Linked DNA regions of Homo sapiens. The protein of the gene in region 2 purifies or fractionates together with the protein of the main gene of each other region. This does not show direct contact. Each region holds a gene or a part of one and is shown on either strand. Other genes may lie near its edges.

The links.
Region 1: the proteins of IGDCC4 (region 2) and DPY19L1 purify together in Homo sapiens (affinity purification with mass spectrometry; one large-scale study listed by BioGRID and IntAct). This does not show direct contact.

What each region holds. Positions count from the first base shown.
Region 1 is NC_000007.14:34,932,986-34,936,485, reverse strand, and holds part of DPY19L1 (protein C-mannosyl-transferase DPY19L1), read left to right. Parts: intron 1-3,500. UniProt on the Homo sapiens protein: C-mannosyltransferase that mediates the C-mannosylation tryptophan residues on target proteins.
Region 2 is NC_000015.10:65,380,984-65,384,947, reverse strand, and holds the end of IGDCC4 (immunoglobulin superfamily DCC subclass member 4 precursor), read left to right. Parts: intron 1-528; coding exon 529-939; 3' UTR 940-3,464; downstream 3,465-3,964.

The sequences.
Region 1 (3,500 bases), on a different chromosome or scaffold from region 2:
TTCTTTGGGCTTCACTCTCTTGAAACAACTGTAAGTTACTGGAACATAAAAATAATTTTCGTAACCTTTTTTCTCCAAGCTAACAATGAGCCTTTGAGAGTTCATATTCTGCCTAGACCCCTGCATAGAGTTTGAATATGTGAAAGTTGCAGAGGCTTTGTGCTGTAGAGTGTTGGGAGAGCTCCCTGGATTTGCATAGCTCTAACAGTCTCATGTTTGGGTAGGCAGAGCACTGTTTTACCCACACAAGAAGGGATATGAAGGCAAATTCAGGATGTATGGCAATAAACTTTGCACACTAAACAAAATCAGCAGACATTGAACTGACTTCAAGTCACTTACGAGCAATCAGACTGAGAGTTGGGGTGCAGAAGAGGGTGTGCTGGATTTCCCCATCTGGACCTTGACTTGCCATTTATTGTGTCTGTCACAGCAGGAGTTGAGTGGGAGGAAGCTACGAAAGTGACTCTCTCATCTGTTTTCCCCACTCATTAAAACAACACTCTCCATCTAGTACAAGATCTAAGCCAGGCTGATGACACACTGTCAGGAAACCTTGGACAGGTCCACTCTGCTTCAACCTTGACACAAAACAAAAGCTGTGCTTTCTGTCCTGACAGGGAAGCAAATGGGGAGTTCAGATAGGAGAGGAAAGTGAAGAATGACTAATATTTATCTAGTGTTTACATTTAGAGTAGGAAGTTTCTTGACAAAGCTTTCTGCCTGGTTTGGGACCTTCCTTATTTCCTTGGCCTTCACTCTCCATTTCAGTTATGATCAGCCTGAAACCCCTGTAGATTGCTGGGACGTGAAAGTATGTTGGAATGGGGGAAGCAGATGGGGAACTCAGTTAGGAGAGGAAGGGGAAGAGGGACCAATATTTATCTAGTGCTTAATCTGTGCCTGGCAATTGGTGAGCACTATGTTTAAATGATCTCATTTACAAGTGGCTTAATTGTATGGCTTGATTATTCCTTAAATATTTGACACTGTGTTTAAATATAAACACTCAAATATATTTGCATGCAAGTTGTAGATTAGTTTTAAATTAACTACAGTTCTCTGCTTTCTTTTACTCCAATAATAGAGTTGACATAGAATACATGTATTTAGAAGGAAATTATTCAGATTTTCACTAATGCTATTTGCAGATGGCTGGCCTGGGGAAACCTTGGGAAACTCAGATGAGGACTAAATAGTGTTGCACAAGGCAAACAGAGCTCCCCAAGACAGCTGTTTGCCCTCTCTTTTTCCTAAAAGCTGTTGAACTCAGGAAAACTGTGGGTCGTTCTCTACTTTCTGTGTGTCTCACTCTCTGCCACCGTGGGCCCTCAGTGTTGTAACAGTTCAGCCTTGACGTGTATGAGAAAATTACAAGGTAGAAAACCCATGCCCAGCCATATGATCATAGGTGTTCCATGTGAGTAGAAACCAGTGTCAGCAAAGGTGTGCAAAAAGTGTGCACTTGAGCCCTCTTCATGGGAACACTCACTGGCAAAACATTTCTAGGGGATAGTTTGATGAAGGGAAGGTAAGAAAAAAATTGTGCAGTCCTTTGGCAGAGTGATAATGTTGCCTCTAGAGCAGGGGTCTCCAAGCCCCCGGCCATGGACCAGTACTGGTCTGTGGCCTGTTAGGAACCCAGTCTCACAGCAGGAGGTGAGCGGAGGGTGAACAAGCATTACAGCCTGAGCTCTGGCTCCTGTCAGATGAGTGGCAGCATTAGATTCTCATAGGAGTATGAACCCTATTGTGAACTGCACATGCGGGGGATCTAGGGTACGTGCTCCTTATGAGAATCTAATGCCTGATGATCTGAGGTGAAACAATTTCATCCCAAAACCATCGCCCCCACCCTCCAGCCCATGGAAAAATTGTCTTGCAGGAAACCAGTCCCTGGTGCCAAAAAGACCGGGGACCGCTGCTCTAGAGGTTTAGTTTGCAGAAGGGAGCTCTGCACAAGACTGTTTGTAGCTGCATTGCTTTATAATGGCAAAATGGGAAACAATTAAAGTATCTGTCTGTAAAGAATTGGTTAAATAGTACATATGAGAACTAGCAGCTTTTAAAAACAGTAGAATAGATCTTTATGCACTGAGATGGAAAAATGGTTCCACGTTTTATTGTTCAGTATACAGTCCCAGAATAATTCCATTTTTGTAAAAACAACTCAAGAGCATCTGCCAGGGTTTTCCAGAGGGACAGAACTAATAGGATAGATGTGGCCGGGCGCGGTGGGTCACGCCTGTAATCCCAGCACTTTGGGAGGCTGAGATGGGCAGATCATGAGGTCAGGAGATCGAGACCATCTTGGCTAACACGGTGAAACCTTATGTCTACTAAAAATACAAAAACTTAGCTGGGCGTGGTGGTGGGCACCTGTAATCCCAGCTACTCAGGAGGCAGAGGCAGGAGAATGACGTGAACCTGGGAGGTGGAGCTTGCAGTGAGCCGAGATCACACCACTGCACTCCAGCCTGGGCGACAGAGGGAAACGCCATCTCAAAAATAAAAAAAGGATAGATGTATATATGAAATGGAGTTTATTAAGGAGTACTGACTCACACGATCACAAGGTGAGGCCCCACAATAGGCCATCTGCAAGCTGAGGAACAAAGAAGCCAGTCTGAGTCCCAAAACTTCAAAAGTAGGGAAGCTGACAGTGCAGCCTTCAATCTGTGGCTGAAGGCCCAAGGTCCCCTGGCAAACCACTGGTGTAGACCCAAGAGTCCAAAAACTGAAGAACTTGGAGTCTGATGTTCAAGGGCAGGAAACATCCAGCACAGGAGAAAGATGGAGGCCAGAAGACTCAGCCAGTCTAGTCCTTCCACAATTCTTTTGCCTGCTTTTATTCTAGCCATGCTGGCAGCTGATTAGATGGTACCCACACAGATTGAGGGTGGGTCAACCTCTCCCAGTCCACTGACTCAAACATTAATCTCCCTTGGCAACACCCTCACAGACACACCCAGAAACAATACTTTGATCCTTCAATCCAATCAAGTTGACACTCAATACTGACCATCACAGCATCTATGTATATAATGATATCTGTGTCTGTATGTGTGTCTGACATTGGAGAAAGATACAGCAGATAGCAAATATTGTATGTTCTCACTTATAAGTGGGAACTAAGCTACCAGGATGCGAAGCATAATAATGGTACGGACTGTGGACTCGGGAAGCGAGGAGTGGGGTGAGGGATAAAAGACTACACATTGGGTACACTTTACACTGCTCTGGTGGTGGGTGCACCAAAATCTCAGTAACTGCCACTGAATAACTTATCCGTGTAACCAAAAACCACTTGTTTCCCAAAAGCTATTGAAATAATTTTTTTTTTTTTAAAAAGGTCCAGCAGGATATATGCTGGATTGTTTATAGAAGTCACCTCTGAGAAATGCTATTGGAGATGATGGTGACTTTCATTTCTTAAAATGTATGTAGGTCTATATTTTGATACTTTTATAATGACTGATTATTATAAATTAAAGGTGTTA
Region 2 (3,964 bases):
GTCCTGGAAGGAAGGGGCAGGAAAGGAGGAAAGGGTCTCTGTGCTTGTGAAGAGGAAGTAATGAGTTCTCTGGAGACCCCTGGGTGGTAACTTTCCTGGGGATAGAAGTCTAGCCAGGAGACCCCTGGAGCCTCCAAAGGTTGAGTAGGTGGAGGGCAGGCCAGTTTGCAGGAACCTGTTTCAACCTGGGTTGAAAACAGCCCCTCCTCTACCCAGACCTAAGTGGGCCACAGCAGTTCCGTGGATCTGAGGGTGTGGCTGGCCTGAGTACGCTCAGCCCTTCCTCCTGTCCCCAGAGGCCCTGACTGAGTCTGGTACTCCTGAAACTCCTGGATGAGGGCAAATGGGAAGTATTCCATCATTCCCTGCCTTTGTATAGGTTCGAACAGTTCCTGTGTATCCTTCACCGACTCCCATGTGATACTTACTCTGATGGAGGGTCAGACTTTCTGCCCCACGTACGCTGGTCATTCTGATGATTACTCTCAGTAATGGTCACTTTGTCTTTGTGTTCTCTGCTCTGATCAGGGCAATGGGAGGAAGAAGTCACCCCCAGCCTGCAGGAACCAGGTGGAGGCTGAAGTCATTGTCCACTCTGACTTTAGTGCATCTAACGGGAACCCTGACCTCCATCTCCAAGACCTGGAGCCTGAGGACCCCCTGCCTCCAGAGGCTCCTGATCTCATCTCGGGTGTTGGGGATCCAGGGCAGGGGGCAGCCTGGCTGGACAGGGAGTTGGGAGGGTGTGAGCTGGCAGCCCCCGGGCCAGACAGACTTACCTGCTTGCCAGAGGCAGCCAGTGCTTCCTGCTCCTACCCGGACCTCCAGCCAGGCGAGGTGCTAGAGGAGACCCCTGGAGATAGCTGCCAGCTCAAATCCCCCTGCCCTCTAGGAGCCAGCCCAGGCCTGCCCAGATCCCCGGTCTCCTCCTCTGCCTAGCTCTTCCCAGAGGATGTGGTTTGGGGCAGGCAGGTATGGATCACATAGGATGCGATACCTGTGGCCGTGTATGTCCACATGTGTGCCTGTAGATACATCATCAAGCCCTTTGGAGCTTCCTAAGTTGCTTTGGCTGAGGGGAGAGGAAAACATGGATTATTCACTCCCCCCATACTCTTTGTGATACACATGTGACATGTGAAAGACATACGAGACATAGCTACATGTGATGTGCACATGTGTGAAGTGCATGTATGCGTACTGGTTGTTGAGCTGGGAAACCGTGGCCCAGGCAGTGGTCACTACAGCCTGATTGGTCCTCCAGGTCAGAACGGTGCCCCACAGTGGTCAGTCCCCAGCCCTGTGGGCCCCCACCTCCATCGCCCAGCCTTTTATTACACACTCTGAGAGTGTCTCCAATGCCTGTCTGACAAAGACAGTCCCAGCCCATTCTCCTGTCTGGCTGGGTTGGGTGCAAGCAGGCTCTGAATGCCTGGCATTTCAGCTGCATCACCTCCCAGCTCCTTATTGCCCAAATAGAGAGGGTGGCCCTGGCTCCCCTCCGAGCAACTCTGCATTTAATTTTGTAATCTGGGAAGTGCCTGGTTTTGAAAATCCGCTTTCTCTCACTCTTCCCCTCCTTCCTTGCCCCTGGCTGCTCTAGTGTTCTGTCTCCCAGTCACCTCGCTCTCCCAGCACCAGTGCCCTTCTCCTGCTCCCAGATACTCTTTCCTTTCCTCTCTCCTGTTTTCCTTCCTCTGCTATCTCTCACACCTCTCCCAGACTATGTCATCTTGTTCTCCTGCCTGGGTTCAAACTCTGCATCCTTCTCTAACAACGTGACTACCTCATGTCTGCTTCAAGGCCCCCGTGCCCTTCCTGTATCCGCGGCTGCCGCGCACTCGCCTGCCATCCTCCTGCCTCCTCTTCACTCAGTGCTTCTGCTTGCCCTGCCCCAGGCAGCCCACCCACGCCCAGTGCGGGTGTGGAGAAGATCTTCTGGCTTCCCTGCATCTTGCCTTTGGGATTGGGATCCAAGGGTTCTCCATGGATGGATCCAAGTCATAGAGGGGAATGTTTGAGACAGGGAAGGGGGCTGTGATCCAGAGGCTCAGAATAAAAAGATGCCCTCCCTTCTATGCAGGGGGGCAAGTTTACTGGATGGAGATGATTTGGGCCTCTCTTCCAGAAGAAGCTAAAGGAAGAGAAGGGGAGTGAGAGTTCAGGGAGGCCCTTCCCACCCTGTGAGGCTTGACTTGATCTGGATTGGGGATGACAGGAATCTCACCCTCTGGGGTGCTGGCAAGGAGGTCTTTGCACAGGAAAAGGGGTAGCTCATTTCAGTTTGTTTTTTCTTTAAATTGAATCCTCAAGTCATTTTCTGTTCACCTGCCGCACAGGGACAAGCTTGACTTCTATTTTCTGTGTAGTGAAAACAATGTCATTTATTTGGTTTTTCACCTCAGCCCTCTCATAGGAGCATAGAATGTTAGGGTCTTTACTCCCTAATGATGTCTGATTGGCACATCAAGAGTTAACTCTGCCTTCTGGGCCAAATTCGAAATAACCAGTCCATTTTTCCTTTTTTTTTTTTTTTTTTTTAAATGGTGGAATGTCTCTCAGCACAGTTGCGGCTTCCTCAAACCCTGAAAGCATCTGTGTTTATTATACTCGGGTGTCACTCACTGTTGATGTCTGCACCTACGTTTCCACCTCCTCCCCCTCCTTCAGCCAGCCTATGATAACACTAAAGATTATTAATGTTGGTTTTGTATCTCGTTAAAGACAGAATTGTCACTTGTAGTATTTCTGTAGCATTCAGCGCTGCTGTGGCTAACACCACTGTGTATGTTTCATCATTGCTCTGAAGGTCAAAAGCCTCATTTTATTTTGCTGGTTTGATTTTTTTTTTTTAAAGAAGAAAAAAAAACTGCCCTGAATTAAATGGCTGTTTTAACAGTAGGCTCTTAGCATTATACCACATAGTCATTTTTCATGTTCTTGTTTAACAGGCACTGAGGTTCTGGTTTAAATTAAATAGCTGCAAATGAGACAATTTATAACCCATTAGGTTGGGTGGAAAATTGTTTCTCAAAAGCAAATAAGTAATAAATCTGGTATCTGCCTATAACTCACAGTTGATAAGAAAGTGGCCATTTCTCACTAGCACTATATATGATTTGGGCTCTGGGTAATTTGGAAGTGTTAGGTTTGTGTCTTTGTAGCAGTATTTTTATTAGAAAAGAATCTATTGGCCTTTTACAGGGTATTAATCCCTTTGTCACCTACCATTGATGCCTTAAGTTTTCTGAGTCTCAATTAAAAATCTTCCTTTTCTTGATGCATGACAAGTGTAATCAGTACTTGCTCATTTATTTGTCTGTATTTAGTTTATGCTGTACTATTTAATTATCCTTCCAGCGTTTTTTTTTTCTCCTTACAAATATGATACTCTTTAGTGTTAAGCTAAGGCATTGATTCATGTATCTGTCCTTATAATGAATTAATAAACTATTTTCCAGAAATGTGGAATTCTCTTTTGGAACCATTGACCATGACTAGAATTTCCTCAGCCTTTGTGCCCTAGGGATTTTATTTCTTACTGTGATGGGAAATGATGTTGTTGTTGTTTTTGAGATGGGATCTCTCTGTCGCCCAGGCTGGAGTGCAGTGGCACAATCACAGCTCACTGCAGACTCAACTTCCTGGGTTCAAGCAGTCTTGTCACTGTAGCCTCCCTAGTAGCTGGGACTACAGGCACATGCCACCATGCCTGGCTAATATTAAAAAAAATTTTTGTTATAGAGATGTGGTCTCGTTATCTTACCCAGACTGGTCTCGAACTCCTGGGCTAAAACCATCCTCCTGCCCCAGCTTCGAAAAGTGCTCGATTACAAGCATGAGCCACTGCCTCTTGGCCCAAAATAGTGTTTTGTTTGTTTGTTTGTTTGTTTGTTTGTTTTTTCAGACTAATCTCACTTTGTCGCCTAGGCTGGAGTGCAGTGGCATGATCTCGGCTCACTGC